Linked DNA regions of Homo sapiens. The protein of the gene in region 6 purifies or fractionates together with the protein of the main gene of each other region. This does not show direct contact. Each region holds a gene or a part of one and is shown on either strand. Other genes may lie near its edges. The genes, in order: HDLBP, KIF22, EIF5B, NELL1, DDX27, OBSL1 and RALY.

Region 1 (3,500 bases), about 22 Mb from region 6:
AAGCTTTTCCCTCTTTTGGTAAGAAGTAACCAAGTTCTGAAAGAAGCATATCATGCGGCTTTCCCAATTGCCAAGTTATGATGACACAAAGTCCAAAATGCGTGTAAAGGTTTTTGACCAAGTAGAAAAGCAGAGAACCCCAACCAGTATAATGTGTCAGAATGCTTTTTCTCTTCAATTGTAAAAGCACCACAACGTTCAACATCTGGAAACCAAGAAAATAATGAAAAGAACCTTTTTTCATGTGTATAATATTTTAAAACTTGGTTACATGTTATTTTTTGGTATTTCTAAAGTCAGAGACATTTTAGAAGTGAAATCCCTAGTAGGCTATTGTTTTACCAAGCACACTGAAGTTCCTCGAATACCGTTGAAGATGAGCTAGACATTTGTTCTGAGACGTGTCTGGACATCATGTGGTTGTGTTAGTCATCTTGTTGATACTTGTTGTTAATTTGGTAAGAATACATTGACTACATACTCTCCCTTACTACTTTTTATTAGCATTCATATTAATCTTATTTCAAATCAAGGTTACAGCTTCATGTCATTTGTAGAGTCAGATAATCCTAGAAAGGCTTGTAAGAAAGAAGTGCCAACATCCTTCCCCTAATCATGTTTCCTCCCCTGCAGAGTATCTACTTCAGCCTTAGTAGATTTCCTTGATCTTTGCCTCCAACTCTAAAGAGCATATTTGCTTGACGTCTGTATTTGTGTCTCCTACCCCTGTTTCATGTGATGTCTCTTCGCTTGACACTGAGAATAGGTAGGAAGTTCCTAGCTTTCTTTCACCCTCTGCCTTCTCAGTGCAAACGGATCCATGGCTGCCCAAAGTGATATATCCTTAATTTGGTTAGTTCAGTATTGATTGTTTATATTATGACTACATATTGCCATTTACAGCTGGACGAAGTGGTATAATAGGATTGTTTTCACTTTTCTGGATAACTTTTTGTTTTCCTGGGTTATTACAAGTCTTATTTGTTTTTGTTTGCTTGCTGCTTGCTCAGTTTTCTATATTTTGTCACTACAATTCAACCCCAAATTCTGAAGCAATTATCTAAATCTTTCAAGAAATTGTCCGTTTTCTTTTGAAGAAAATTAGTATTCCTATCATTTTATCTTGAATAAATCTCTCCCAGCGCCTCCAATCTGCTGCAGGCTTGTCTGTGCCTGAAATCTTCCTGTAACTCTCCTCACTCCCTCTTGTGTTGGAGCCTCACTTTTCTGGAACCTATGTCATTCTCTTGATTTGACTGTCTCACTTCGATGGAGCACATCCTTCACTAGTTGCCTGAGAAGTGCATGGCAGATGAAGTTTTCAGAATTTGTATGTACGAAAGTGCCTCGTTCTGCTCTTATCCTGAGTAGGAATTTGGACATCATTTTGCTCCGCGGTCTCTAAGTTTCCAGTGTTGTTGAAGTCTTAAGCCGTTCTGATTCTCTTTTATTGATACGTAACATTTTTAGAGCCTTTGTGTGTGACTATGTTTTCCTCCATGAAACCTGAAGGTTTTTGTTTCTTTTTTTTCTTCTTTCTTTCTTTTGTTTTTTTTTGAGACACAGCGTCTTGCTCTGTTGCTCAGGCTGTAGTGCGGTGGCGCTGTCATAGCTCACTGCAGCTGCAATCTCCTGGGCTTGAGTGATGCTCCTGCCTCGGCCTCCCAAGTACCTGGGACTACAGGCATGCACCGCCACACCTGGATAATTTTAAAAACTTTTTGTAGACATGAGCTCTCTATGTTGCCCAGGCTGATCTTGAACTCCTGGCCTCAAGTGATTCTCCTGCCTCAGACTCCCGAAGTGCTGGGAGTGAAGGCTTTGCATCTGGCCTCAGAGGCTTTTCTTTCTGTGAAATTCAGAACTCCCAGAACAGTGATGTCCCTTGGAGACTGTTTTCATCCATCGTCTTGCCTACTCTTTGGTCCTGTTTATTTGCAACTCATGTTCTTCAACGCTGGGCATTTTTTTGATTTATTGCTTTGATTTCTTCCTATTTGCTTTCTCTCTCTCTCTCTAGAATTCTACTCTTGGACTTTCTGGATTGGCACTCATAATTTTCTTAAGGTTTCTTTTTCCCCCCTCTAAAATTTTTGTTTTTGTTTTTATCTTTTAAATTGTAAATTGACAAATTATACTTGTACATATTTAGGGGGTACAAAGTGATGTTACGATTTATGGATACAATAAATAATAAAATCAAGTTAACATAATTCATCACTTCAAATACTTTAAGTTTTTTGTGGTGAAAGCATATGAGATTACTGTCAGCACTTTTGAAATCGACATTATTATTTACTATATTCACCGTGCTGTACAATATATCTCATAAAAGAAAACCACATTCCTCCTGTCTAATTGATGTTTTGTACCCTTTGGTTTTTCATTTTCTTTCTGGAAGTTATTCTCAAGTTTGTCTTCCAGCCCTTCTACCAAGGTTTTTCTCATTTCTAAGAGCTTTTTCTTGTTCCCTCTATTCCTATTTTATAACCTATTTTTTGTTTCATGAATGTGGTATCTCCTGTTAACTGTTGGAAGATATTGATGAGGTTTTATTTTTCCCTGTTTTCTTTTTCCTTAAGTCACTATTGAGGCTGCTCTGGTTTGTTGTGGGTTTTTGGCTTTTGTCAGCCTTTTCTGGGCTATGCAGTGATGTTCTTGTGCCTGCTCGTGAGTCAGAGGGCCTCTGAGCCTGTGTCTGTGGCTGACTGTGGCTTTCACTGCAGAGGCACCTGGCTGGGCCATTTCCTTACAGCACCCTTGTCAGCTTCTTTGGGTTTCTTCAGATTCCCCAGAGAAATATCTTGTAGCCCTTTGCCTGGCTGAGTGGCCAAGTGAGGAGAGAGGCCTGGGAGCACAGCAGTAACCATAAAAGAGCTTACTTCCCTCTTTTCAGAATTGTTTCCCTCCTCTGTAACTGGTGTCCCCAGTCCAAAGATTCTACTTCCCTTTGCAGACAGAAAAGCGATACCTTTTTGCCAGGATAGGAGAGGGACTGTGCAGGTTGGCTCTGTGTGGCTGTGCAGAGTTGTGGGGTGCATCTTAGGGATCTTCGTGCCTTTTAAACCTATCAGCCAACTCTGTTTTTAATTCAGGTCTCCTGGCTTCCAGTCATATTGCCAGTTGGCCTTCCCCATTGCCGATACAGGATTCAGCCCTTTTAGGTCTGTTTCCAGTTTCTAGCCTCCAGTATTTTAATGTTCTTATCTCTATTCTTATTCTTTGCTTTCGTGATTTGTATCTTAAAAAAAGAAAAAATCGTTTACTATCATTTTAGTGGTGCTTCACGAAGTAGTGTAAATGTATTGATCTGACAACGGCTCGTGCTGGAGACACTGTTCCAGGAAGTGGGACACAGTAAGGAAAATGCAAGTGTGTTCTCCTGCACTTTCACGGAGGTCACGTTTTGGTAAGCGGTGTCAGGCAGTCAGCAGACCAGCAGATATGCAGTATGTCCAATGTGGACAAGAAGAAAGGAGGAAAATAAAGTATCGAGGGGA
Region 2 (2,567 bases), on a different chromosome or scaffold from region 6:
GCAAGACTGCATCTCAATAAATAAATAAGTAAATAAATAAATTCCCCCCAAATTCTACTCCATTGAATCACTAAAGTCTAAGATTAATCTCTCCTCAGTGCTGCTGCCTTGGGGACCTAAGGAGGCCTCCTCCTGGGGATCCTTTCCATTTTCCAACCCCTTTAGCCTTCAGCAAAACTTCTCACTTTGGGACAGCTGTTTCAAGGATGAGCATTTTTGCTTCTGGTTCAAGGAGTGATCTGGATCAGATCTTTCAGATCCATGAGAGCAAAGCAAAGGAGACTTGGAAGAGCTGTCCTGCTGAGACCATCTGGTCTGTGTGTCAGTGCCCAGCTTCTCCATGACTCTCCGGGGAGCCAGCTGCTGTCCTAACTGCGTCTACCCTCAATCCAGATAAAGCCTCTAAACTAAGTCCTTTGTGTCACCTCCTGCCCCAACTCCAATCACCCCACCTCATGGCCCAGTATGTACTAATCCTCAGGTCATCTCTGTTCAGGGGTCTTGCTTTCTGTGTCTGGCCACTTAGCCCTTGCGCTATTCCCTCCACCCCCCAGGAGCCAGTTGCAGTTTTAACTTTGCCCTGTTTCTACCCCTAGCCCAAATAAAGCCTGTGAACTACTAAACAGAGGTGACCTGAGGTGGCCAAGGGTTAGTGCCCACTCTGTCCCAGGGGGCTACTGTAGTTAAGGAAGATGCCACACACAAGAAGATGCTTGTGCACTCATGACCCCATCTCTCAGTCTTGTCTTTCCCAAACCATCTGTCAGCACTCCCCACTGCTGTGTGCACCCAGAAATGTGCACAGGTAAGCTGTCAGACAGGCACTCTGAGTAAGGGGAAGCTCAGAGTTGGGCACATCAAACCCAGCAGACCCAGAGCTTGGGGGCCTCACAGGAGAGCAAGTCAGATGGGAACATCAGTATATGATACCAGGTGGAGAATTCAGAATCAGGAAGGAGTAGCTGCTGCTGCTGTGAGAGTCAGGAAGGAAGAGATGACTTCTAGTGTTTGCCCACGTATGTTCTGATCCTGTTTTTCCAAGGCACTAGCATGGAAAGCACAGGAGTGTCCCTGTCCTCCAGGAGCCAGTTCACAGCATAGGAAGGGAGATGCATTGTTAAGCTTGGCGTCATGGGAAAGGTGGCATCAAACTGACCTGGAAAGATTATTGATACAGATGTGAGGAGGTGTGGGGCAAGATTCCAGGCAAAATAAATGAATGTTAGACGTTGCTGACTGGGCGCAGTGGCTCACACCTGTAATCCCAGCACTTTGGGAGGCCAAGGTGGGTGGATCACTTGAGCCCAGGAGTTCAAGACCAGCCTGGGCAACATAGTAAGACCCCATCTCTACAAAAAATAAAAAAATTAGCTGGGCATGGTGGCATGCACCTGTGGACCCAGCTACTCAGGAGGCTGAGACAGGGGGATTGCTTAAGCCTCAGGAGGCCAAGGCTATAGTGAGCTGTGATCTCAACACTGCACTCCAGCCTGGGTGACAGAGCAAGACCCTGTCTCAAAAAAAAAAAAAAAAAAAAAAAAAGAATGTTAAGCCTTACCGTGCTCAGAGTCAGTCAGGACTGCTTGAACAGGCCTTCCCAGCTGCCCACAGCAGGGAAGCTTGGCAGCTGAGGTCTTCGGTGGATTTCAAAGCCCTGCTAAAGATGGCATCCTCTGTGATGTTTTCCGCAACTGCTCCTCCAAATGGATAGGCACTGTCCTGGCTGTCACCTTATTATGGTCTCTTGATTTCCTCAGTAGACAGTGCCTCCAGGGCAGGGCAGTGTCTTAGGTCTCTCATACCTGGCACTCAAGTGTTCGCCTGATTTCCTGGCATCCCCGAGCAGTCACTTCACCTGATGAAGACACTGCACCCAGAGAAACTGGATGCCTAGCAAGTTAACATTAGGTTCTGGAGCTACAGGATATACCAAGTTAAGGTGTGGTGAGGGGAGTCCTGCTGCTGTAGGTGGTGATGAGGGAGGAGGTAGGTGGGGAGCAACTTCTTTTTCTGCTCAGCCCCCTACAGAAGCTAAGCAGCATGGACCCGGCCATGCTGGAGCGCCTCCTCAGCTTGGACCGTCTGCTTGCCTCCCAGGGGAGCCAGGGGGCCCCTCTGTTGAGTACCCCAAAGCGAGAGCGGATGGTGCTAATGAAGACAGTGGAAGAGAAGGACCTAGAGATTGAGGTACGTGTTTTAGGGATGTGGGAGCTGGATTCCTATTGGCCTTGAGAAGCAATCCTTGGATCTTCAGACAGGGAAGGACACTCAGGCTGGACTAGAGTCCAGTTTTCTCCCAATACCGGAAGTTCTCCAGCTTCTGCTTGAATGTCCTTAACATGGCTGAACTTTGACAGACAATTGAGACCAGATGTGAGGGTGAGAAGAAAAAGTTCAAAGTAAAAGCAACAAATGTTAAACATTACATTTCCTAAAGCCCAGCTCAATTAATTGAGGACTGTGCTTGAAAAGCCTTTCCCTTCAATATTTGCAGAGGCTTGTTCCACCTCTGGGTAGCCCCCTAATCACAGAAAGCCCTTAATTATGTTAGGCTCCACCTGTCTCCT
Region 3 (3,500 bases), about 120 Mb from region 6:
AACCCTTTCCTTACTTTCTGATGCAACAAGATATCCCAGGTTCATCTTGCATGGGCTGAGACCTGGAATCGGTTGTTTATCCAAAGAGCTTTTGTTCCTTTTAGAGGGTAATAGTGTTTAGAGATCACAACTGGGCATATAATTTATTACTTTTTTGAAAGGTAAGGTGATTTAAAATAGTGTCTTTGCTCCAATGAGAAGAATATATTGGGACCTCTCTTAAATTTCCTGCTCCTATATTCCCTAGATTTTTATATTACAGTCATTTTGGTGTTTATGCTATAATTACAGTAATAGCTACCATTTATTGTGTGCTTAGTGTGTAACTGATGCTACAATGTCTTTGACATTGTCTATTTTTCCCTCATAAAAAAATCTTATAGCTATTTTTACTTCCATCATATAGATGAAGAAATGGTGGTTCAGAGTGTAAACAGCTTACCCAAGGCCACAGAGCTGAAATTTAAGCTGGTCTGTGCAACTTTTTCTTACGCATATGTTCAGCTAGGAACATTAGATGTGAAGAAACCCAGTACTTAGATTTTAGAAAGTTTTATTCTTAATGGAGAATATAGCTTTTGTAAAATTTTAAATGAAATTAGGTACAAACTTGAATATAGTTAGCATTCATACATCAGATTTCATTGGTGACTATTGGAGAGGCTAAAAGCACCCATGAAGAAATTCAGATGGGACCAAGCAGGGAGTAATTTGCCAGTCTCAAAAATGCTGTTTTAAGGAGCAGTTAGACTTGTAGTTATGGAAATTACAGTGTAGAATGGTGGACTTTTAGCATCAGTCTTTAGCATTAGGCTTGTAAGAGATGCTCTCTCAAGTGGCATCCCTGACGCTGGTCTCTTACTCTTCATAGTGTTGTCCAGTGTTTACCATCTTATTAGTTCCCTATTGTCTACTAATAAGAATCCAAATTCCTTAGCTTGACATTCAAGGTTCCCCCCCACCCACAGCCCACTCATGTGAGTCATCTCATTAAAAGATCCTACAGTGTTGTTTCATCGTATGTTTGAAAGACAGCTGCTTACCACATTTATTACCTAGAATATTGTAAAACTTATTCATTGAGCTAAAAATGTACTCTCAGAGAGTGTAGGCATCTGCAGGTGTCTTCATATAATTGCTCTGAAATGTGCAGCAGGTTAACTTTTCAGTCATCCTTTAGCCTGTGACTACTAAGCATATACACACACACACATATATGAGTACTTTATCAATAATTTGTAATAAACTCATTTCAGGCAAAGAGCTTCTTCAAGAACTTGATTGTTATGTCTCAGTTTGCAAAGTGAATGGAATGTCTAAACACATACAAGTCTTGGTGTTGATTCCAAGTACAGCAGCTTATTTGAGAGTCTGAGACTAGAGCAGTAGTCAGTTGATTAAGTCTAGGGTGTTATTGGGACCACCCTTCAGGTAATCCAGCCTACAGTTTCCCCTCAGGCCCATGCTTTTCATCTTAGTAGGTGTAGGCTGCTAGGCAAGGAAAACTTAAAGTGATGATCTCTGCATTCTCAGCTGGCTTTATCCTCTTTCTTTGGTTTGTTTAATGTATTCGTCTTACCAGTCATAGCTATGGTTTTACCATTCTAGCCATTCTTCAGTACATGCACAACACACATCCATATACATTCCTACGTTAGAGATAACATTTTTAGTCATTTTCCTTTATTAGTGACTTCATTCAAAATCCCATGGTATACAATTTCTGTTGTCTTTATTCTAAGGCTTCTGCCCATAGTGAGAGACTGAGTCAGTAATCCAGTAATCTGTAGATTCAGTTCAATCCCAGTCAAAATCACAGCATGGTATTTTGTAGCTATCTGTCAACTAGTTCTAAAATGGATATGAAGAGACCAGAGAGTTAGAATGGCCAAAATATGTTTGAAAAAGGAGAACAAACTTAGAATACCTGATTTCAAGACTTAGTATAAAGCTATAGGAATTAATACAGTGTGATATTGCCAGAAAGATAGACAAACAGATAAATAGTCTATACATGGTTAGTATATAGGTGAAAGGTAATTCAGTGGATAAAATACAGTATTTGTAGCAAGTGGTACTAGAACAATTGGACATCTGTATGCAGAAAAACCCAAAACCAGTTTTAATTCCCACTGTATAAAAATTGACCCAAATGGGTATCATATGTAAATGTAAAATATACAATAATACTTTCAGAGGAAAACATAGGAGGATATCTTGTGTTAGGCAGAGTGCTTAGATAGGACTCTAAACCATAAAAGGAAAAAAGATACATTTTGAGAAAGACCAGTTCAGAACTTTTCTCTGCAAAAGACACTGTCAAGAGAATTCCAAGACAGTACCTCCAAGTCAGATATCTGAGAAAGAATTAACATCCAAAATATATAAAGACCTCTCAAAATTCAACTATAAGAAAACCAATAAGTTCATTTAAAAATGGGCAAAAGGTATCAACAGACACTTTCACCAGAAAGCTATACGCATCTGAAAAGAATGTTCTAAAAAAAGAGAAACCTTTACCACATTCAGAGCAGTTGAAACTCTTTTTTTTTTTTTCTCTCTTTTTTTGAGACAGAGTTTCGCTATTGTCCAGACTGGATTGCAGTGGCGCAATCTCAGCCCACTGCAACCTCTGCCTCCCAGGTTCAAGTGATTCTCCTGCCTCAGCCTCCTGAGTAGCTGGGATTATAGGCACCCACCACCACAATATATATATATTTTATATAATACAATTTTTTGTATTTTTAGTAGAGATGGGGTTTCACCATGTTGGCCAGGATGGTCCTGGACTCCTGACCTCAGGTGATCCACCCACCTCGGCTTCCCAAAGTGCTGGGATTACAGGCGTGAGCCATTGCGCCTGGCCAAAACTCTTCTGCATTAGTGGTGGGAATGCAAGATAGTATAGCCACTTTGGAAAACAACTGGCAGTGTCTTTATAAAAATTAAGGTCATATTTACCTTATGTTTCATCATTCACACTACAAAATATTTGCCCAAGAGAAATGTTCACACAGAAACCTGTCTGAAAATGTTCATACCTGCTTTATTCATAATTGCAAAAAACCAGAAACAACTCAAATGTCCTTCAGCTGTTGAATGGATAAGCAAACTGATATATCCATACAATGGAATGCTGCCCAACAATGAAAGTAAACGAAGTATTGACATGTGCAGCAGAGTGAGTGACTCTCAAATCCATTATGATGATAGAGGCCAGACCGTAAGATTCCATTTATGTGACATTTTAGAAAAAGCAAATCTTTTGGTTGGAGAACAGATCAGTGGTTACCAGAGGCTAAGAAGGTAAGGAGGGTTTGATTACATGGAGCAGCACAGGATGATGGAGTGATGGAGCTTTTCTGCATCTTCATTGTGATGGTGATACACGTATCAAAACTCTCACTGTATGTGAAACGAGGATTTTTACTGTATGTAAATTTTAAAATACCTTATATGTAAAAGATACAAGTTTTTCCATGAATATCCTTTCATATTTT
Region 4 (4,144 bases), on a different chromosome or scaffold from region 6:
TTCTGAAACGTTGGAATTGGTTTCCAGGAAACGAGGGACGGCTGTTCTGAGGTTTCCTTGGACTCCTCTGGGATCCCTGTTGTGAATATCAAAGGAGTACTGCTGGTGAGGGGGAGCGGGGGCTTCAGAGAGAGTGGGAAGACTGAGCAAGCTAAGTGGAGTTCATTTGGTATAAATCAGAGGCTGTCATTTCAGATTTCATGACTCTACATATCCAGTTATAAATAACGTTCCTAGGTGTTAGTAGGACAAATAGGAAGTGGGACAGAAGTCTTAAATTTGGGGGATCTTCATAGGGAAGGTCAGGTCCTGAAAGGGTCGCATAGAGGGGAGAGGACCCATTCTCTTCTTGCCGGCAAGTAGAAAACAAAGCCCAGCCCAGCTTTTCTCTCCAGAGAATGTTGTGGTGGGAGAGGGAAAAGAAGGTGGAGGTCCCGGAGGAATTGCACATGGGGCCAAAATGTGACTATGAAAGAAGAGTGGGCTTTTGATAATACCATTAAGAAAATCACGCAAGAAAGAAAAAAAGATGGTTAGGAATTACCCCTATGTGGCAGCATCTGCCCTGCAGAATGAGAAGGTTTGCAAATAGACTTCCCAAACCCCAACCACAGCTCGCTCCGCCTCGAGGACCCCTTTTCTGCACCCCCACCTCAGCGCCCTCTTCCTGCACCCACAAAGAGAGTACTCAGTCATAGGGGTTCAACAGGAGAGAGGAGACAGAAGGTACAGGCGGTGAGCAGGGACTCAGCCATCATCCCCCTCAGGTCCCTCCCCACCCAGTTGACAGAGCGAATCCCGAGTAATTGTTTTCCGAGGGGGTCCGTGCGCGCTCGGTGGCGCCGCCTCGGTCTGGGTTCCCCCGAGGAAAAATACCCACCCGCGAGGGCTCGGCGGCTTTTCGACTCGGCGGGGATGAACTGTGGCAACTTCGGCAGCCCCCACCGCGGTGCGGAAGTAAAGAGGGCAACATTGGCGACTGCGGCTCGGAGGGGCTGGAGCGCGTGAAGCCGTGGGGGCGCCGTGCGCCTCCCGCTCTCTCGTTTCGGCCGCAGGTCCTGGGACTCCGACTTCGGTGCTCCGGGTGATAGCGGCTGCGGCGCCTGCAGTCCAGATCCTCGCAGTTCTGCGGGCGAAGGAGGCGAACGGAATCGGCCCCCAGTGGGGAGCGCAACAAGCCACAGTAGCCAAACCCCGCGCTCCTGCCCGGGCTCCCAGACGAACGCAGCCGCAGCGGGGGGCCGGGCCCCGAGCCCCACGCCGCCGCCGCCGCGCCAGCGGTGGGGGGCGGGCTGGGGGCGGGGCGGCCGGGGCTGCCTTCCCGGGCGCATATGCGAGCGCAGCACCCGGCGCTGCCGAGCCACCTCCCCCGCCGCCCGCTAGCAAGTTTGGCGGCTCCAAGCCAGGCGCGCCTCAGGATCCAGGCTCATTTGCTTCCACCTAGCTTCGGTGCCCCCTGCTAGGCGGGGACCCTCGAGAGCGATGCCGATGGATTTGATTTTAGTTGTGTGGTTCTGTGTGTGCACTGCCAGGACAGGTAAGCATGACTGTGGCGGTTAGAGGGATCCGGGAAATGGGGGTGCCCACAGACCACGGCGGCGTGGGGAGACCTGGAGCCGAGCTTTGCGCTGGTCTGGGGAACGGCGGTAGCGTGGACCGGTTCCTGGGATCTCTTTGCCCTGCTCGGAGTGACAGGGTGAAAATAGGGACTCACGGGCTTGAAGATGTCCCCGTTGAGTGCCCCTTCTCAGGGGACCCGGCCTCAGGGGCGCAGGAGTGAGGGGCGCGGCCGAGTAGGCGCACCCTCTTGCTGCTAGTAACCGGCTTTCCGTCCCAGGGAGTCGAAACCCGCAGCAGGGCGGGCCCGCGTGCCCCGAGTTCCCGAACTTGTAAGGTGCTGTGGAAACCACTCTCGCCGACCCCCGCCAGGCTGGGAAGGGGTAGCTGCGGGAGTCGCACCCGCAGAGGGAGCGCTTCCGGCTGGCGGGCGCGGCCGGGGCCCGGGAGGGCGCGGTGCGGCGAGGGCAGAGAGCTGCGGGAGAACCCTGGGATCCCGCGATCTCCTCCTGTGCCTTCCTGACTACCCAGGAGAACTCCAGGAGTATTCTCCTCCGCCTGTCTTTGCTCCCAAGGGCTGGGCGAACAATTATCTGAGGGAAATAGAGCAGTGGAGACAATCTGGGGAAATTTTCTCAAGCTCAAACCAGTTTTCTCTTGCCATAATCGCAGGGTTCCGTGTGGGGAGGGGGGAGCAAGGATGACGCTTGATTGTCTGAAGTCCCCACTTCGTTCTGCCTCCGGAGACGCAGTTGTGAGGACTCTCAGCGCATCTTCTTCCTTCTGCTTCCACCGGCTCCCTTGCCCAAAAGTCCCCTGGGGTTCGGAGACTGGCTTGCAGCCGCCTTCTTCAAAGAGCTAGTAGTAGATGCGGGGAGACTGGGGTGAGGTGAGGTGGGGTGAGATGTAGGAAATTGGCAAAAATAGGGCCTGTCAACTGGGGGGAGTGTCGGAGGTTTGCAATCCTACCCAGCCATCCTCCGTACGCGCTGCACCCCAGAATCTGTGTGGTCATTCCCTTTCCCTTTATTCTCCCCCCTTTACCATCCTTATTTCCTTCTTTAGAGGCGTGGCCTTCTCTCTAGGCCAAAGAGCAAGTTCATCTGGAGAGGGCTAAGAAGGGGCGTCTGCACTTGGTTGGCTCAAAAGTTCCCTCCGCTTGCGCCCAGGCGCCCCTCTTTGGCAGTTAGCCCGCTGGAAGATCTAGCGTCTAGGAGCTTTCAGAGGGCCCTTCCCACTTCCCCAGGACTGAGCAGGCAGCGGCTTTCGTCTGGTTAAGAATGTTGAATATGGATTTCTCAAGGGACAAAAGAAACCTCCCATTCCGTTCCTTACCTCTATCCGAGCTTCCCAGGCTGCGGAGACGCCAAGGCTCAGTCTAGCTTAGAATAGTTGCTTCTTGAGTTCAGGCCCATCCGGATGGGTTAGTCTTTTAAAACCAGGACACGCTGAAGGAGTGCGCGCACCCCAGGAAGATCAGGACAGGCAAGACTAGTGCAGAGCGTGGGCTACTGGCTCTGAGCGCGAGAGTCTGGTGCTCGTGGACATCTTACAGAGGAACCGCAGACAGGAAGAAGCTAGGTAGGGAGGGGGCAACCCGTTAGTGAGTTCACATCCCTAAGTGCACATCACTACGGAATATGCCTAAATCCTTTGTTCTCATTACTCCTTTGAAAAGTCGCCAAAGTACCCTTATCACGGAATGGAACGTGTTTCAGGGTTCATTGCTTGTGGAAGGGGTCTTTAAGAACAGGTATTTTCCCTCTTTCCACTTCCAATCCCCTTTAAATCTTGTAAAAATTTCGTTGTAGGGGAAGATTCATTCATGTCTTTACTCATTCAACAAACGATGTCTTGCTGGGTGCCAGGATTTCTTATGCAAAGAGGAAATGACAGTCCTTGACTTCTAGGAACTTAAAGCTCAGCTGGGAATCTAGATAGAAACTGGCAGGCATTTTAATTTTACAGATTGATGGGGGGGGTGGTGGAGAGGTAGGAGTATAAGTTTGTATTAAGGAAATGTGGAGGAGAGACAGTTTGAATTAATTCTAGGGAGGAGTGGTGGTCAGGGATTTGAGAGATGTACCTTCAAGGCTTTCTAGGGAGTTTTCCAGGTGGACAAAGTGGGAAGGCATTCTTGGCAGAGGGAGCAGATTCAGCAAAGGCAGGGAAGCATGGAAGGATCTGACCCACTGGTTGTGGCTGTTGCCTAGGGAGCTTGGGTTCTCAATGTCACTTGGCACTATTTGAACACTAGAGGCCGCATATTTCTTCTACACACATTATCGGAAGAATCAGAGAGACGGGGGAATTACCTCTCAATTTGTACACTTAAAGTATCTTGTAGCTTGAGAGGGTATAAGCGGTAGCTTTCTGGAGGCAGCCCTCTGATTCTGTGCAGAAATCATTTCCACATCATCCATCCACCCTCTTCTTAGGTAACAAAGGCTGGCTTGTGATTATCAGCATCCAAACAGCTGCGTTGAAAGTTTCTTTGTCAAGTGGGACAATTGTTGTCTGGGCTGTTAACAGTCCTAGATGAAATAAACATGTGGTTCACTTAGTGAGCTGCTCAGATATCACCGGC
Region 5 (3,500 bases), on a different chromosome or scaffold from region 6:
TCTCCTGCCTCAGCCTCTTGAGTAGCTGGGATTACAGGCATGAGCCACTGTGCTCAGCCTTACCAGCACTGCATTTTCAAGATCGTCTGGAGAGGATTAAAAAAATTTTTTTTTTTGAGACGGAGTTTTGCTCTTGTTGCCCAGGCTGGAGTGCAATGGCGTGATCTCGGCTCACTGCCACCTCCGCCTCCCAGGTTCAAGCAATTCTCTTGCCTCAGCCTCCCGAGTAGCTGGGATTACAGGCATGCACCACCACACCCGGCTAATTTTGTATTTTTTTAGTAGAGACAGGGTTTCTCCATGTTGAGGCTGGTCTCGAACTCCTGACCTCAGGTGATCTACCCACCTCGGCCTCCCAAAGTGCTGGGATTACAGGCGTGAGCCACCGCGCCCGGCCTAAAATTTTTATATATATAATATGTATATGTATTTTCAGAGAAGGCCAAAATTTTTTCTTTTTCAAGTTAATTATGAAGAGTTTGTTCTCTTATTCGATGTTTCAATGAAAATTTCTTTTTCACCTCTTTATTTTTATCTGCAGAGGGCAGCCACTACATTAGATGAGAAGATTGAGAAAGTTCGAAAGAAAAGGAAAACAGAGGTGAGAAGAAAAGTGGCTATTTTTCGTTGTTAGGGCCCACTCTTTACTCTCACCACGACCCCAGCATCTCTCTGGAAGCCCTTATAGAGCGGGGCATGGCTGGGGCAGGCGCACTCTTCTGTGTGTTTGCTGTGAATCTGTACTGAGAATCCCCACAGCCGTTCATTCAGGCCGGAGAGCTTCCTATCGCTCTACTTAGGTTCTGGATTTCTAGAAGTTTCTCATCACCCTCACTTTAATTTTTTTCCCAGGATAAAGAAGCCAAGTCTGGGAAGTTGGAAAAGGAGAAAGAAGCAAAGGAAGGCTCTGAACCAAAGGAGCAGGAAGACCTTCAAGAGAATGATGAGGAAGGCTCAGAAGATGAAGCCTCGGAGACTGACTACTCATCAGCTGATGAGAACATCCTCACCAAAGCAGGTAGACGTTACGGCGGAGGTGTCAGTAATGGGGACAGGAGATCAGAAGGCATCCTCCTTTACTTTGTAGGGTTTCCTCCACTCTTCTGCACAGTTTATCTTTAAGCTGTTCTGCCTACTACATTGAACTCCTTTCTTTCTTTTTTTTTTTTTTTTAAGAGATGTTGGCTGGGTGCAGTGGCTCATGCCTGTAATCCCAGTACTTTGGGAGGCTGAGGTGGGTGTATCGCTTGAAGCCAGGAGTTTGAGACCAGCCTGGGCAACATGGTAAAACCCCATCTCTACTGAAAATACAAAAATAAGCTTGGTGTAGTGGCATGCACCTGTAATCCCAGCCACTCAGGTGGCTGAGGTACGAGAATCACTTGAAACTGGGAGGCAGAGGTTGCAGTGAGCTGAGATTGTCCCACTGAACTTAACCCTGGGCCACAGAATGAGACCCTGTCTCAAAAAACAAAACAAAAGAGATGTGGTCTCACTCCATCCACAGGCTGGAGTGCAGTAGTGCAATCATACCTCACTGGAAGGCTTGAACTCACTGGCTTAAGTGATCCTCCTGCTTTAGCTTCCTAAGTAGCTGGGCCTACAGGTGCATGCCCCTGCGCCTGGCTAATTTTTTTTTTTTGTAGGGACGGGGTCTTGCTTTGTTGCTCAGGCTAGTCTCAAATTTCTAGGCTCGAGCAGTCCTCCCGCCTTGACCTCTAAAAGTGCTGGCATTACAGGCGTGAGCCACTGTGCCCGCTGAATCCTTTCTTTTAGGTTTTCTTTTCTCTTGGGATTTTGTTTGGGTTGTTGTACTTCATAGGTAGTTTACTCTTTTCCCATCTAGCCCCATGCGGCTGCCAGATGCCACTGTGATACAAACTCATTTGGGGTGACATACTCAGATGGGTCCAGCCACATAGTGGGTGCTCAATAAGTATTTCTTTCTTTCTTTTTTTTTTTTTGAGATGGAGTCTTACTCTGTCACTCAGGCTGGAGTGCAAGTGGTACAATTTCAGCTCACTGCAACCTCTGCCTCCCGGGTGCAAGCAACTCTCCTGTCTCAGCCTCCCAAGTAGCTGGGACTACAGGCACACGCCAACACACCTGGCTAATTTTTGTATTTTTAGTAGAGATGGGGTTTCACCATGTTGGACAGGCTGGTCCCGAACTCCTGACCTCAGGTGATCCACCTGCCTCGGCCTCCTAAAGTGCTGGGATTTTAGGCGGGAGCCACTGCTTCCGCCCTCAATAAGTATTTCTTGCAGAAATGTGTGCTAAAGCATCATAATACAGTGTAGTGGTCGAGAGCCTGGTCTCTGGACCAGAGTCACTGGGTTAGCTTTCTCTCTGACCTTAGGCAAGTTACTTCACCATGCTGCCACAAAGTGTCCTCATCTGTGAAACAAGGTTGACGATGGTCACCCCTCAGAGGCTGAAGTGTGGCATTGGCACTTAGGACAGTGTCCAGCAGGATGCAAGTGCTTTGTAAGTCTGAGCCGTGGTCATCAGCTAAGTTTTTCTCCATAGATACACTCAAAGTAAAGGATCGGAAGAAGAAGAAGAAGAAAGGACAGGTGAGCTTGGGGCTGCAAGACAGTATGCAGCTTGTTGGCAAACCGAAAGGAGTTTAAGGTCGTTTGGGTTTCTTGGCTCTTTTTGTTGAATTCTCTTCTCTCTTTTGGTTTTCTGGTGTAGGAAGCAGGAGGATTTTTTGAAGATGCATCTCAGTACGATGAAAACCTCTCGTTCCAGGACATGAACCTTTCCCGCCCTCTTCTGAAGGTAGCAGCTTCTTGTCAAAAATTTTCTTTGTAGAAGCATGGTCTTGCTATGTTGTCCAAGATGGTCTCAAATTCCTGGCATCAAGCAATCCTCTTGCCTCAACCTCCCAGAGTGCTGGGATTTGAGCCACTGTGCCTGGCCAGTAGTGGCTTATTTTGGCAACCATGGGATTATTGCAGCCACCCCTAACTGGACTTTCTGCTTCTCTCTTTGCCTCCCTCAACTCTTGTCCATACAGTTGCCAGAGAACTCCCTTTTTTTTTTTTTTTTTTTTGAGACGGAGTCTCACTCTGTCGCCCAGGCTGGAGTGCAGTGGCACAATCTCGGCTCACTGCAACCTCCACCTCCCGGGTTCACGCCATTCTCCTGCCTCAGCCTCCCCAGCAGCTGGGACTACAGGCACACGCTGCCACGCCCTGCTAATTTTTTGTATTTTTAGTAGAGATGGGGTTTCACCGTGTTAGCCAGGATGGTCTCGATCTCCTGACCTCGTGATCCGCCCGCCTCAGCCTCCCAAAGTGCTGGGACTACAGGCGTGAGCCACCGCGCCCGGCCGAGAACTCTCTTAAGCAATGAGTTCCATCGTGTCCCTCCTCTTCTTCTCTGAGTCCTTCAGTACTTCCCAGTCTCACTCTTCTTAGAAGCCTGAGTCCTTATATTGACCTACAAGGCTCTGCCCCTTCTGGCCCTCTCTGACGACACCTCCTGGCACTCGT
Region 6 (3,500 bases):
GCTGGAGGGCAGTGGCGTGATCTCAGCTCATTGCAACCTCCGCCTCCTGGGTTAAAGCGATTCTCTCACCTCAGCCTCCCAAGTAGCTGGGACTACAGGTGCGCGCCACCACGCCCAGCTAATTTTTTTATTATTTGGTAGAGACGGTTTCACTATGTTGGTTAGGTCACCCCTGACCTCAAATGATCTGCCCGCCTCAGCCTTCTAAAATGCTGGGATTATAGGTATGAGCCACCATGCCTGGCTTTCTTTCTTTCTTTCTTTTTTTAAGATGAGGGTCTCACTGTTGCCCAGGCTGGCCTTGAACTCCTGTGCTCAAACGATCCTCCTTCCTCAGCCTCCTGAGCAGCTGGGATTATAGGTGTGTGCCACGCACAGCGTGCCTTTGCCTCCTAAACCCCTGATACACTAACACTGTCTCGCTGTCCACATAGCCTCTGCTGGGTTGGGTGGGGGAACAAAATGCAATTAAGGGGAGGAGAGATGGGAGCAAACACTTTTTGGACACTTACTCTGAGCCAAGCACTATGCTAAGTATTTTCAATATACACTCTTTCATTTAATCTTCACAACTCGATGAGGGGCAATATATCTCCAGTTCACAGGCAAAGAAATGGAGGCTGTAAGAGGTTATGTGACCTCCGTCACACCATAGCTTGGCGACACACACAGGATTGTTCTGTTCCTGCTGCCTCAGATAGAGTCAAACAGAAGCATCGAGTGCAGTCACCCCGTGGTTCTCACAAGGCAGTCCGTAGGCTGGCTGCTTTAGGAAGCTCCTGGAAGCTGGTTATAAATCCCTGGACTGTCCAGAGCCCCAGTATCCAGGGTGGAGCCTGAAGATCCTTTCCTAACAAGTGCAGACTCTCTGAGAGAGCAGCTTGGGAACCATGGATCCCACTCATCTCACTGAGTGGGAGTCCTGTTTTCCACACTGTGGCCCCTGCCTGAATGCACCCAGTGACAGGGAACCCACTACCTGGAGAGTGGCTGTCTCACTGTTGCCACTTGTTGGATCATCCTTCACCTCCTGCCCACCCTGGGGTCTTTCTCGTAATAGAGGCAGTAAGCATGGCCCTGATGTGACTTGTGACAGTGACCTCCCTTCAGCCTAGACAAATGGTGGCTGCCACTCTGTGAACTCTCTGTGCTTCCTTCTCTCTATGTACTCACCCCGCCACCTCTGATCCTTTGGGGACCTACAGAGCACTCTGGTGCCACATGATCTCCTGCCATGCCTCACCTGCCATGCCCTCAGCATTCCTTGTCATTGTCCCTGAGTCCCTACACAGCAGGACCTTAGCCCTCCTCCAGTGTCCTCTTGTGCAGAAACAGTGTCTCCTGGCCACACAGCTAGTTTGGACTCATTGTGCGGGGGTGTCTGTGCAATGCCATCTCTGCTTCCCACCCAGATCCTCCCGTGCACATCGTGGACCCCCGAGAACATGTGTTCGTGCATGCCATAACTTCCGAGTGTGTCATGCTGGCCTGTGAGGTGGACCGAGAGGACGCCCCTGTGCGTTGGTACAAGGACGGGCAGGAGGTGGAGGAGAGTGACTTCGTGGTGCTGGAGAATGAGGGGCCCCATCGCCGCCTGGTGCTGCCCGCCACCCAGCCCTCAGACGGGGGCGAGTTTCAGTGCGTCGCTGGAGATGAGTGTGCCTACTTCACTGTCACCATCACAGGTGGGGGGCCAGGTGGGCCTCGGAGGCACAGGGGAAGGTGCCCCTGCTCCCACTGGAACAGCTGCCACACCTTCACTCCCAGGCCACTGTTCCCCGCCCCTACTGCCCTCCCCCTGGCAGATCGGACCTCCTCCCTTTCTCCTCAAGCTATGGTCTAGTCACATTCAGGAAACGTGTTATCATAAGCACATTGGTCTTGGCTAAGGAAGCCTGGCTTTCTCTATTCTCCTGAAAACCTGTACCAAGGGAAATCTCTGGGGACAGTGAGTCTATTGCAGGGTAGGGCAGAGTCTAGGGCTGGTGGTCTCAGGCACTAGGGGGGCAAAAACATCTTGGAGGAGGAGACCCCCAGCTCCTCCCCCCAACCCTCCTCTCATCAGTTCCACCCTTCATACCGTCCCTGTCCCAACCCAGAGAATGTGGAGCGTTTCTACAGCCGAGGCTGACCCCGTGGTCCCCTCTGTGCAGCTCCTGCGCAGCAGAAAGTCTGCTGTGCTTTTGTGACAGCTGTATTCGTGTGTCTCTAGCTGTGAGTAACTGTCAGCTGCTGTGAGATTTGGTCTCAGGAAGGTCCCTCTTCAACACATGGCCTACTTTCCAGGGGTAGGGAACACAACGGGGTCAGGGAGGACGGCAGGGCACACCCCTCATGCCCGGCAGTGGCTGTCCCTGTCCTCCAGACGTCTCCTCGTGGATCGTGTATCCCAGCGGCAAGGTGTATGTGGCAGCCGTGCGCCTGGAGCGTGTGGTGCTGACCTGTGAGCTATGCCGGCCCTGGGCAGAGGTGCGCTGGACCAAGGATGGAGAGGAGGTGGTGGAGAGCCCCGCGCTGCTCCTGCAGAAGGAAGACACTGTCCGCCGCCTGGTGCTGCCCGCTGTCCAGCTCGAGGACTCCGGCGAGTACTTGTGTGAAATTGACGATGAGTCGGCCTCCTTCACTGTCACCGTCACAGGTGTGGGCCCAGCCCAGCTCCCCGGGGTCACAGAGACAGCCCTGAGCCCTGGAGGAGCTGGCCACATAGCCCCAGCTAGCACCCCGGGGAGGAGGGAGGTGTGGGCTGCAGGTGCATGTGCCAGGGTTCTTGCTGAGATGAGCCCAGGGCCCCTATTCAAGGAAACAAGCCCCTCCCCGGTGCCCAAGGCCAGGCCTAGCTCTGCTCCACAGCTCATTTACTGAGCACTTTCCCTGAATCAGGCACTGGGAGTAGCAGGTGAGTAATGCAAATACGGTCCCTATTCTGAATGAGCTGCCAGGCTAGGTGAGGAGGCAGCTGTTAACCAGGGGTCGCAAACGGGTAGTCCTGGGGCCCTGCGCATTCCACACATGTGCTTTGTTTGGTCTGCAGAGTCTTACCAAAGTCAGGACAGTTCAAATAACAATCCGGAGTTATGCGTCCTCTTGAAAAAGCCGAAGACCCGGCGGCTCTGGTCCCGCTTCCCCCCATGGCGACGAACAGCTGGCACTGAGTAGCAGCTGCCCCCATAGTTTGGGGCCCACATTCCTCTGTCCCACCTCCCTGCCATTGCTTTTTGCCTCTCCCCAGACTGCTTCAGCCGCTAACCTAACCTGGCCCCTGTGGGCATTTGAGTTTGCGACCCCTGTGTTAAACCAATAAACATGCAAATAAATGTACAGTGACACCTGGTGATAAGTACTGTGAGGGCCAAGGGCAGAGGGCTCAAGAGCACAGAGCAGGAGGGTCAGGGAGGCCTGGGAGAAAGTCACCCTTCCACACACGGGAGCCAGCAGCACGCAGACACGGCCGCTTCCCTCTAGGACTGCACAGCCTGGCAGGAAAGCCAGACGCATTCCAG
Region 7 (2,237 bases), on a different chromosome or scaffold from region 6:
AGCGTACTCCAGTGACAGCAATCAGTAGGAAGTTTGCATCCGGAGACACGCAGCCTGTCTGCCCCTGTCTTGGGCCACCCGTCTAGACATTTGTTCTCTAACAATCAGCCGGGTTCCTTCAAACGTGTGCTGCTTATACATGCTCATTGTGTACTGCTAATGTCACCTACTTCCCCCTTCATTCCCCACAATGAATGGATCCATTTTCCCCATGTTCAAGTTCCCAAGAGAGAATCGACTGCCACTGTAATTTTTTTTCCTAATCACTCATAGGTTACAAGTACCTACCCTGGTCCAGTGAACTGCGGGATTCATATGTGGCCACTTAGGCTGGTCTCGTTGGTATGGAGCTGTGGGAGGGCAGCACCCAGAAATAGGCTTTGTTCCAGGCCTGGCACGTACTCCTCCTGCTCCTACTTTCTCTACCTGGGAAATAGCCGCTCAGGACGAAGCTGCTGCTGTGGTGTCGCCACCTCTGAGAAGTCTCCCAGACCCTCCGACTGCTCTTTAATTGCCTGTTCTCTCCTCTGGAAGCCTTCCCCCAACACAGAAAAATTCAATCCCATCATCAAAAAGGGCTTTAGGTTTTCCCTCCATCTTTACGTGTTGATCAAAGTTTGCAGATCTGCTGGAATCCTTATTGAAAACTCCCCATTTCAAACCAACCCGGTCTACAGCCTCCAGGGAAGCTTCCTCCTGGGCTTTGGCTCCATGTTTTGGTAGAGGGTGGAGGCTTTGGGCAGTGCTCAAACTCCACCGGGAAGTCTCTCTCACTGAGCAGCCCTCCTGCCTGTCATCCTGGGCAGGCGAGCACTCTGAGGCCCCAGTGTAGCTCTGTGCTTTGATATTCCCAAGCTCTGCTGGGGCCTGACTAGGCCAGCCCCAAGGTGGCCAGAGTTCTGGCTTCATACCTGAGCCAAAAGCCCCAATCCATGCTTGGCCATTGCCTGAGTATTAGCTGCCCCAGGGGGATCACGGTCCCCATATATTTGCTTGCCATGGACCCTGGGCAGCAGGGAGAGAGTAGAGATTTGTCAAGAGCCCATGGTGGAGGCTGAGGCCCTGAGGCCATGAGATGCAGGCATGGGGTGAGAAACAGGCCCCTTGGAATTGGGCTGGGCCTTGGCCCAGCTTAGTCAAATCAAAAGGCTTCTATTTGGAGAGCTGAAGAGGGTGTACAGAGGAAGGGGCTAGGTCTGCAAGGAGTGCCTCATCTCCCTGAAGAGCTCTCAGTGGAACATACTTCACCCATCCATGTACCCACATCTTTCCTTGCCCAGAAGGCGAGAGCCAGCTATAACAGACCCATTTCAATACCCTGGCAAGTCATTACTGCCCTTAGCTCTTGGTGTCCCCATCTGTGAAACATGGGGGACAGCTGCTAGCCTGGATTGGAACTTGGGCAAAGTCCAAAGAATGGGATTTAGAGCTGAATGAACCTCACACTGAGGGCACAATAGCACTAGGCACTGCCCCCAGAGCCTAGTGCTATATGCCTGCTGCAGGTCCTACCCAAGCATGCTTTACTGAGGAACTCAACGTTTCAGAGCTTGAGGGTCAGGTTGATCATGGGCTTGTGACCATAGGCTTCCTTAGTATGCCAGGCTTGGAGAACCGTGAGAAAAGCAGGGAAGATACCTTCAAGGGTAGCAGGCATCAGCTCTACTCACCTTGGCCCATAAGGCTTTGCCTGGTCATGCTGGCACCGGGTCATATGCTGGACAGGGAGAACGAGAGTCCCATCCTGGAACTCCAGAAAAGCCCCTGGATGCTCCAGCCCCTGGGAAAGCACACAGCCAGGCCCTTGGGTGGGAGGTTGGCTTCTAACAGTGCATACACATGCCCTTCCTCTGAGTCGGGGCAGCAAAAACATCCATTCCGCTGCGCAACAGTTGTCATTTTTCTAACATCTGAAAACTCCAGAAGGAGATGGTGATAAATGTGGTACCGGATTCTGCCTAAAGGATCAGTCTTTAGATGTTTTCAGATTGAAAGCCTCATTTGTGATCCTCACAGCCATCTTGAAAGAATAGAGCAGCCAGTGGGTATACTGGATTGTGAGCTAAGAGGCCTGGGACTTTCCCCCTGTTGCTGCCAGCCAGGTTGATGACCCTGGGCAAGTCTTTTTCCTTACCAGGTCTCAGTTTCCTCAGCTGTAAAATGAGAGGTTGATCTGGATCAGGGATAGTAAATGGGCCTTTGTTCAGTTACTGACTGTTGTATAACAAACCACCCCC

What was found.
Region 1: the proteins of OBSL1 (region 6) and HDLBP purify together in Homo sapiens (affinity purification with mass spectrometry; 2 studies listed by BioGRID). This does not show direct contact.
Region 2: the proteins of OBSL1 (region 6) and KIF22 purify together in Homo sapiens (affinity purification with mass spectrometry, with the first as the bait; 2 studies listed by BioGRID). This does not show direct contact.
Region 3: the proteins of OBSL1 (region 6) and EIF5B purify together in Homo sapiens (affinity purification with mass spectrometry, with the first as the bait; 2 studies listed by BioGRID). This does not show direct contact.
Region 4: the proteins of OBSL1 (region 6) and NELL1 purify together in Homo sapiens (affinity purification with mass spectrometry; 3 studies listed by BioGRID and IntAct, with this or other methods). This does not show direct contact.
Region 5: the proteins of OBSL1 (region 6) and DDX27 purify together in Homo sapiens (affinity purification with mass spectrometry, with the first as the bait; 2 studies listed by BioGRID). This does not show direct contact.
Region 7: the proteins of OBSL1 (region 6) and RALY purify together in Homo sapiens (affinity purification with mass spectrometry, with the first as the bait; 2 studies listed by BioGRID). This does not show direct contact.

The regions. Positions count from the first base shown.
Region 1 is NC_000002.12:241,309,173-241,312,672, reverse strand, and holds part of HDLBP (vigilin), read left to right. Parts: intron 1-3,500. UniProt on the Homo sapiens protein: Appears to play a role in cell sterol metabolism. It may function to protect cells from over-accumulation of cholesterol.
Region 2 is NC_000016.10:29,800,751-29,803,317, forward strand, and holds part of KIF22 (kinesin-like protein KIF22), read left to right. Parts: exon of another isoform or gene 1-52; intron 53-2,018; coding exon 2,019-2,187; intron 2,188-2,567. UniProt on the Homo sapiens protein: Kinesin family member that is involved in spindle formation and the movements of chromosomes during mitosis and meiosis. Binds to microtubules and to DNA. Plays a role in congression of laterally attached chromosomes in NDC80-depleted cells.
Region 3 is NC_000002.12:99,364,889-99,368,388, forward strand, and holds part of EIF5B (eukaryotic translation initiation factor 5B), read left to right. Parts: intron 1-3,500. UniProt on the Homo sapiens protein: Plays a role in translation initiation.
Region 4 is NC_000011.10:20,668,242-20,672,385, forward strand, and holds the start of NELL1 (protein kinase C-binding protein NELL1 isoform 1 precursor), read left to right. Parts: upstream 1-1,344; 5' UTR 1,345-1,482; coding exon 1,483-1,537; intron 1,538-4,144. UniProt on the Homo sapiens protein: Plays a role in the control of cell growth and differentiation. Promotes osteoblast cell differentiation and terminal mineralization.
Region 5 is NC_000020.11:49,222,416-49,225,915, forward strand, and holds part of DDX27 (probable ATP-dependent RNA helicase DDX27), read left to right. Parts: intron 1-541; coding exon 542-601; intron 602-852; coding exon 853-1,018; intron 1,019-2,529; coding exon 2,530-2,576; intron 2,577-2,697; coding exon 2,698-2,784; intron 2,785-3,500. UniProt on the Homo sapiens protein: Probable ATP-dependent RNA helicase. Component of the nucleolar ribosomal RNA (rRNA) processing machinery that regulates 3' end formation of ribosomal 47S rRNA.
Region 6 is NC_000002.12:219,561,540-219,565,039, reverse strand, and holds part of OBSL1 (obscurin-like protein 1 isoform 1 precursor), read left to right. Parts: intron 1-1,412; coding exon 1,413-1,685; intron 1,686-2,365; coding exon 2,366-2,638; intron 2,639-3,031; coding exon of another isoform or gene 3,032-3,156; exon of another isoform or gene 3,157-3,318; intron 3,319-3,500. UniProt on the Homo sapiens protein: Core component of the 3M complex, a complex required to regulate microtubule dynamics and genome integrity. It is unclear how the 3M complex regulates microtubules, it could act by controlling the level of a microtubule stabilizer.
Region 7 is NC_000020.11:34,080,911-34,083,147, forward strand, and holds part of RALY (RNA-binding protein Raly), read left to right. Parts: 3' UTR 1-2,237. UniProt on the Homo sapiens protein: RNA-binding protein that acts as a transcriptional cofactor for cholesterol biosynthetic genes in the liver. Binds the lipid-responsive non-coding RNA LeXis and is required for LeXis-mediated effect on cholesterogenesis.